Homo sapiens: one gene and its partner. The protein of the gene in region 2 purifies or fractionates together with the protein of the main gene of each other region. This does not show direct contact. Each region holds a gene or a part of one and is shown on either strand. Other genes may lie near its edges. The genes, in order: VSIG4 and ZNF558.

Region 1 (3,820 bases), on a different chromosome or scaffold from region 2:
GTCACTATCCTTTTTGTCATCTTGGACTCAGGATATTGGGCTGGAGCAGTTTCTCGGTATGGGTTGGGGGAGGGCACTAGAACTGGACTTGCTCTTTACCCAGGAATCTCCCCCAAGGATCCCCAGAGAGTCCTTGTGGGAAACTTGACTGTCAGGCCACATACCAGGAAGAAGGGACTGGATTAGCCTGATGCTGATGGCCGTGACCCAAGACATTCCCAAATGCACTCACCCCCACTATATACCCAGGAAAAACCATGGTATTGGTTACCATTGCCCCCTAGTGTCTGTGGAGGAGGAGTGTCCTATATTCCGTACAGGCTCAAAGGCTTAGGTTGGTGCAAAGACAGATATTTCTTTGTACTGCCCTCTAGGTGCTTATAATTTTTCAGGGATGCAACTGGAAATGCAAGCATTAAATGACAACAAAGTAAACAAGGGAAGCCACAGGACTTCTGCCTTATGGTAGAGCCCTGCATTTCTGTGTCTTACTCGCCCATTGGCCTATGAGCACCTGTACCGCAAGGGTCGTGTCTTTTTCATCTTAATATGCTCAGCACCTGTCACACAATAGGTGCTCAGTAATTATGTTAAATTAAATTGATGCTCTGAGGCTGTCTCCCTTATACAGAGATAGGAAAGAGGAATTTTTGGAAATGAGACTAGGTATAAGGAAGTGGTGGGTTGAGAAAATTGGCTAGACCCACATCACAGAGAGCCTTGAATAGAATGCTACATTTTGACCTTTATCCCCTGGGCCATAAGAAGCCATGGAAGGTTTTTGAGAGAGAAACAATTTAATGTGGTTACCGCTTATGCCCAGCCTCATCAAGGCTATATGCAAATGCTTTCATTTTAGTGCCCCTGGGGTTTGTAGTCATGTGCTATCAAGTTCAGCCTCATGGTGATAAACATGCTAACTGGCAAAAGCCAGAGCTTATAATTGAAACCTGGGAGAAGGAGATACTCAAGGCTCCCTTCTGGTGATGGAAATCCATCAGATCCATGGTAGTAACCAGGCTATTTGGGAGTAAGAGATACTACAGAGAATAAGACAAATTGATGCTAGGCAACATGACTAGTGCACTGGGCATTGAGAGACAGCTAGTATTTTTTTCTTTTAGAAACAAGCATCCCAATTTTTTTCCTCCTCGGTTGGTTCATAGTTTTTAAATGGCTCTGACAACTGTGCTGTCATTATGCCACTTCCATGCTTGAAAAATTTGGTAAATTTAGTGCCCTTGCAAGGCCTAGTGAAGAAAGTCCAAATTATTTAACCTGGCATTTAAGGCCTTCTATAATCAGGAATAAGCTTTCATTTCCCACTGTACTTCCCTGTTGCCCATCTACAGAAATTTTCTTTATTGATGACCCCACTCTCAGTTGTCTTTTAGGCCCTAACAACTATGCTGATGTAGTTCTCTCTTCCTGAAATACTGTCTCCTTACAACTTGTTTTCATCCTCCAAAATGTGGTCTAAGATATTCTTCCTTCTGAAATCCCTTGCTAATTACCCAAGCCTTAAATTACTCTCTTCTCCTCTGGATCCCTTTAGCATTAATTGTCTTCTCTAGTTTTTGAGCTCATAGCCTCTATTGCTATGTATTGTCATTGATAAATTCCATGTTTCTACCTTGAATCTCCTAAATAAATTGTGAGCAACTTGAGGCCAGGGATTGTGACTTCTCCTTCTCTTGCATCATTACAAGATGACTCGTTAGAAAGATGGCTGTACTTCACTGAGTACCAAAGCCTAGTGCATTTAGTTCTGTAAGTCTTATGCCATTGTTTGCTCGAACATCTGCCTCCCTGCACCCCAACCTTAACTCCCAAACTAGGCTGGGAGCTTCTTGAAGTGCCTAACACAATGCCTGATACAGAATTTAGGCTCAAGTATACTGACAGAAAGAACAAATGAGCCAAAGCCACCTTCTCATATTCATCACTAACCTTGTTGGGATGTCTTCCGACAGAGCATGATATAGGCCATGGTAAAAACCACCATACAGCACAAGGAGATGATGAGGATGATGGCAAAGACAGGCAGGCTCTTTCCTAGAGGGTAAAACAAGATCAAGTGGTATTTGATTGAAAATAAGGCCAGAAACAAAAACTCTAAGAAACAGCCTAGACTAAGCCAGGCCTTTTTCTTTTTCATTTTCCATATTCTCCTAACCTTCTTAGCTAGCCAGAGAGAAAAAACTCCAGTCCCATGAGAAAGACTTGAGAAAGAGATGCCATGTGTAAACAGGTTCTTCCAGACTCACTGGTGGGCTGATTGGCCTGGGCATTTGAGCTAGTTGTCTATGCTTTCTATAGGGCCAAGACAGAAGGTTTTCACCTTCCCTTAGAAAAAAGAAAATAATATCCTGACTTTCCAGCTTCACCAAAAATGCTACATACCTTATTAAGATTCTGGTCAGTTACTTCTAGCCACAAAGATTCTTCCCATCACACGCTCTGGTCAAGTCCCCAGCTTCCTTCTTTCTCAAAACATATTTCCACTGAGCCACTTGAGACACATATTCCCATTATGCCTAAAAGCTGAAAGAATCAACTGGACTTGGCTTCCAGTCCTAGATCTGTTATTTACTTTCTGTATGACTATGGTAGGCAGAATAATGGTCCTCTAAAGATATTCACATCCAAATTCCTGGAACCTGTCAGTATGTTAGTTTACATAGTAAAAAGGAACAGAGATTTGAGAATGCTACATTGTTAGTTTTGAAAATGGAGGAAGGGGGCCATGAGCCAAAGAACGTGGGTAGCTTCTAGAAGCCAGAAAAGAAAGACAAGGAAATTAATTCTTCTCCAAACCCTCCAAAGGGAACATAGCCTTGCTGACTGACATTTTGATTTTAGCTCAGTGATAATTGTGTCAGACTTATTTCCAGAAGTGGAAGATAATATATTTATGCTGTTTTAAGATACTAGGTTTGGGGTAAGTTTTTACAGCAGCCATGGAAAAATGAATACAGTGACCTTAGACAAAACTTTGACTGTCACTAGGCCTTAGTTACCCCATAAGTTCAATGAAAAGATTGGATGATGTCTAAAGCACTTTTAGCTATAATATTCTGAATCTAAGATGCTAGGTCAGGGGGGATAGAGAGGCGTGAGGAAAGGAACCTCAGTGTACTTAGGATTTGTTGCTGCAACTGGCTTGTTTTCATGAGACTCTAAGATATCGTGTCCTAGGAATCCAGTATTTGTGGTCCTCAGAGTGTCTTGTTGGGACTGAGAGAGCTCAAGTTATAAGCTGGTACAAATCGAAGAAATATTCTCTTTTGAAGAGAGTCAAGTACTAAAAAACTTGGTAGAGAAAATAGGGCGCAGACCCAACATCTAATAACTTTGCCCAAGGTTATTTTCTCATTTTTCCAAACCAACTCCCTATGAGGCAATTTCTAACTTCTCTTCTCCCAGTAGATGTTCTTCTCGGAGAGGAACGGAGCTATGGAAATCTTGAAGCCAAAGATGGCAATGCAAATGTGGAACATAAAACAGGTTTGAGTGCTGCCAAGGGATAGCCAAAAAACTCTGCAATCAGGAATGGAGAGTTACAAAGAGCATTTGGAAGTCCACTCTCTCAATTATACACAGGCAGAGAATGAGTACCAGGAGTGATAGTTATCAAACTATTTAATTCCAACCAGTCACAACAGATGCCTACTGTAGACTTGGAGTCTTAGAGATTCCTTGGTATACCTTTTGTTGCATGACCATGGGGGTGGTCTAGAGAGTTCTGAGGAATGGGACAAGGCAGCCCCAGGTAATAATGGAGGGCTCAGGGGTTAAGGGGAGCAGCTAATTATCAATT
Region 2 (3,820 bases):
TGAATGTGCTGGAGCTTTTGAATTCTCCCTTTAGTTCTTTCTGTGAATCTGATAAAAACACAGTGACGCCCTTGGAACTTGTTTCCTCATCTGTGAAGTGGGAATAATCCCTTCCCCAAGTGCAGTCAGACCTTGAGCCCTATTGTCTTTGGTTGGTGAGACAGGGCTGTGTTTGGGTATCTTAGGAGAGCTGTGGGTAGGTGTTTGCATGGAGCGTAGGTGGGCACTGTGTGGTGCCTCATCCGTGTGGGTGTGGGAGGTGGGTGTGGTCAATCAGGGGCAGATCTGTGGGTGTCAGACAAGCCTGAATCCATGGGACTCATTTCTCCTCCTCCAGCTCCGTCTTCCCTGTTCCCAGCCTCTCAGCAAAAAGGACACACACAGGGCGGAGAGCTGGTTAATGAGCTCCTGACAAGCTGGCTACGGGTGAGTCAGATGTTCCTTTTCCCAAATCATTATTCCTTTGGCCAGAAGGTTGGACTTGATACCTTCCAGCAGCCTGGAGCCTCATGGCCAAACCAGGTCCTCAGGCATCCCAGGATTTCCAGGCATCAGATGGAGGGTGAGGGCTGCCCAGAAAATGTCAGTGTGTGTCAACATTTACTGCAGGTTCAGAGCTCCCTCCAGGGTCCCTGAGTACATCATGTGCTCCTGAGAGTTTTAAGGGAAAGCCAAGTAAAGACGTGATGATGTTCTAAACCCAAGCAATTAATAAACGCCACGGAAATCAGTCATTCACTTACCAAGTATTTCTCTGCTTTCTGCCATGTCACGGGCCCATGATCCCCTGGAGATTGAGGGAAATAAGATCACAGGAGCTCCCAGTCTGAGTGAGAAAAGGCAGCTGCTCTGTGGTACTGTGCACTGGACCTGGGAATGGCCTAAGGAGACAAGCATTGAGGGCTGAGCTCAGAAGCCAGGGAGAAGAGCTCAGAACCCCAGGAGAGGAGCTCAGAACCCTGGGAGAGGAGCTCAGAACCCTGGGAGGTGAGCTCAGAACCACCCCCCCCAACATCTCGTGCTCAGGTTTCCCCAGCCCTGGCTCTGTTCTCCTGGCCCCTCTTCCTGTGCACGTTGGTGGGGGTGGTCCTTGGCTAAGCCGTGATGTTTGCAATGCTTTAGGGCTTGGTAACCTTCGAGGATGTGGCCGTGGAGTTCACCCAGGAGGAGTGGGCGTTGCTGGACCCTGCCCAAAGGACACTGTACAGGGATGTGATGCTGGAGAACTGCAGGAACCTGGCCTCACTAGGTAAGCCTAATGTCATTCCTGCATTTATTTAATGACTCCAGTGGCAACACTTGCCTGCTTTGCTTACTTTTTTTATTGTGGTAAAATCCATACAACATAAAATTCACCATTTTTAACCATTCTAAGATATCCAGTCCAGTGGTTTTTCATACATTCATGGTATTGTGCAACCATCAACACTATCTAATATCACCATATTTTCATCACCCTGAAGGAAACCCCGTCCCTATGAAGCAGCCAATACCCGTTACTTTCCCTACCCACTGCTGCTGGTAACCACTCATCTGGTGTCTGTCTTTAGGAATTTACCTATCCAGAACATATCATATAAATGTAATTACAAAATACATTACCTTTTGTGTCTGACTTTTCATGTAGCACAGTGTTTTAAAAACTTAGCTATGGGCCAGGTGTGGTGGCTCACACCTGTAATCCCAGCACTTTGGGAGGCCGAGGCGGGCGGATCACGAGGGCAGGAGTTCGAGACCAGCCTGACCAACATGGTGAAACCCCATCTCCACTAAAAATACAAATTAGCCGGACGTGGTGGCACACACCTATCCCCAGCTAGTCAGGAGGCTGAGGCAGGAGAATCGCTTGAACCAGGAGGCAGAGGTTGCAGTGAGCTGAGATTGTGCCATTGCACTGCAGCCTGGGCAACAGAGCACAACTGTGTCTCAAAAAAAACAAAACAAAAAAACTTAGCTATGTTGTATGTTGTACCAGCGCTTCATTCCTTATGACTGAATGATATTCCATTGTATGGACATACCACATTTTGCCAATCCATTTTTCTATTGAGAAACATTTGAGTTGTTTCCACTCTTTGACTATCAAGAATAATGCTATAATACTATGAATTTTTGTGTACGAGCTTTTGTTTAAATGCCCACTTTCCATTTTCTTGGGCATATACTAGGAGTGGAAGGCTAGGTCTGTGTTTAGCTTCTTGAGGAACTGCCAGACTTTTCCACAGCAGCTGCACCATTGCACGTTCCCGCCAATGCAGGAGGGTTCCAGCTTCTCTGCATCTTCCCAGCACTTGCCTTTTTGATTATACTCATACCAGTAGGTATGAAGTGCTATCTCGTTCTTGTTTTGATTTGCATTTTTCTAATGACAAATGACATGGAGCATCTTTTCATGTACTTGTTGAGTATTTTTCTTTGGAAAAATGTCTATTCAAGTCCTTTGCCCATTTTTGTTATTGTTGTTATTTGTTTGTTTGCTTGTTTTGACACAGTCTCCCTCTGTCGCCCAGGCTGGAGTGCAGTGGCGCAGCACGATCTCGGCTCACTGCAACCTCTGCCTTCCGGGTTCAAGTGATTCTCATACCTCAGCCTCTCAAGTAGCTGGAATTACAGGCATGTGCCACCATGCCTGGCTAAATTGTTTTGTATTTTTTATAGAGACAGGGTTTCGCTGTGTTGGCCAGGCTGGTCTCAAACTCCTGGCCTCAAATGATCCGCCTGCCTTGGCCTCCCAAAGTGCTGGCATTACAAGTGTGAGCCACCGCTCCCAGTCCTCTGCCCATGTTTTACTTGGGTTGTTTATTTTTGTTGTCGGATTTTAAAAGTTCATTTTATATTCTGGGTACCAAATCCTTATTCAAAATATAATACATAAATGATTTCTCTATTCTTTGGGTGTCTTTTCATTTTCTTGATAGTGTCCTTTGATGCACAAAAGTTTTAATTGTGACCAGGCAGAGTGGCTCACGCCTGTAATCCCAGCACTTTGGGAGGCTGAGATGGATGGATCACTTAAGGTCAGGAGTTCAAGACCAGCCTGGCCAACTTAGTGAAGCCCCATCTCTACTAAAAATGCAAAAATTAGCCAGGCGTGGTGGCAGGTGCCTGTAATCCCACCTACTCGGGAGGCTGAGGCAAGAGAATCACTTGAACCTGGGAGGCAGAGGTTGTAGTGAGCCGAGATCCACTATATTCCAGCCTAGGCGACAGAACGAGACTCCGTCTCAGAAGACAAAAAAAATTTTAATTGTGATGAAGTCTGTTGTATCTAGTTTTTCTTTTTTGCTTGTGCTCTTGGTGTGATACCTAAGAAACCATTGCTCAAGTCAAGGTCATGAAGATCTACCCCTATGTTTTCTTCCAAGAATTTTCTAGTGTTAACAATTCCACTCAGCTGTGTGATAGATTTTGAGTGAATTTTGCTTATGGTGTGGAGAAAGGGTCAACTTCATTCTTTTGCATGTGTGTATATCCAGTTGTCTCACCACCTTTATTCTTTCCCCATCAAATGACCTTGGTACCCTTATTGAAAATTATGTGGCCATACACACTGGAGTTTATTTACATACTCTCAATTCTGTTCCATTGGTCTGTATATCTCGAACTCCTGACCTCAAGTGATCCGCCTACCTGGGCCTCCCAAAGTGCAGGGATTACAGGCATGAGCCACTGCTCCTGGCTCCATTGGTCTATGTATCTGTCCTTGGGTCAGTACCACAATGCCTTGATTATTGTTACATTGTAGTAAGTTTTGATAACAGTAAGTGTAAATCTTTCTACTTTATTCTTCTTTTTCACTTCTTGTCTGTTCAAGATCCCT

The links.
Region 1: the proteins of ZNF558 (region 2) and VSIG4 purify together in Homo sapiens (affinity purification with mass spectrometry; one large-scale study listed by BioGRID and IntAct). This does not show direct contact.

The regions. Positions count from the first base shown.
Region 1 is NC_000023.11:66,023,075-66,026,894, forward strand, and holds part of VSIG4 (V-set and immunoglobulin domain-containing protein 4 isoform 1 precursor), read right to left. Parts: intron 2,056-3,820; coding exon 1,951-2,055; intron 1-1,950. UniProt on the Homo sapiens protein: Phagocytic receptor, strong negative regulator of T-cell proliferation and IL2 production. Potent inhibitor of the alternative complement pathway convertases.
Region 2 is NC_000019.10:8,818,609-8,822,428, reverse strand, and holds part of ZNF558 (zinc finger protein 558), read left to right. Parts: intron 1-336; exon of another isoform or gene 337-337; coding exon 338-426; exon of another isoform or gene 427-987; intron 988-1,122; coding exon 1,123-1,249; intron 1,250-3,820. UniProt on the Homo sapiens protein: May be involved in transcriptional regulation.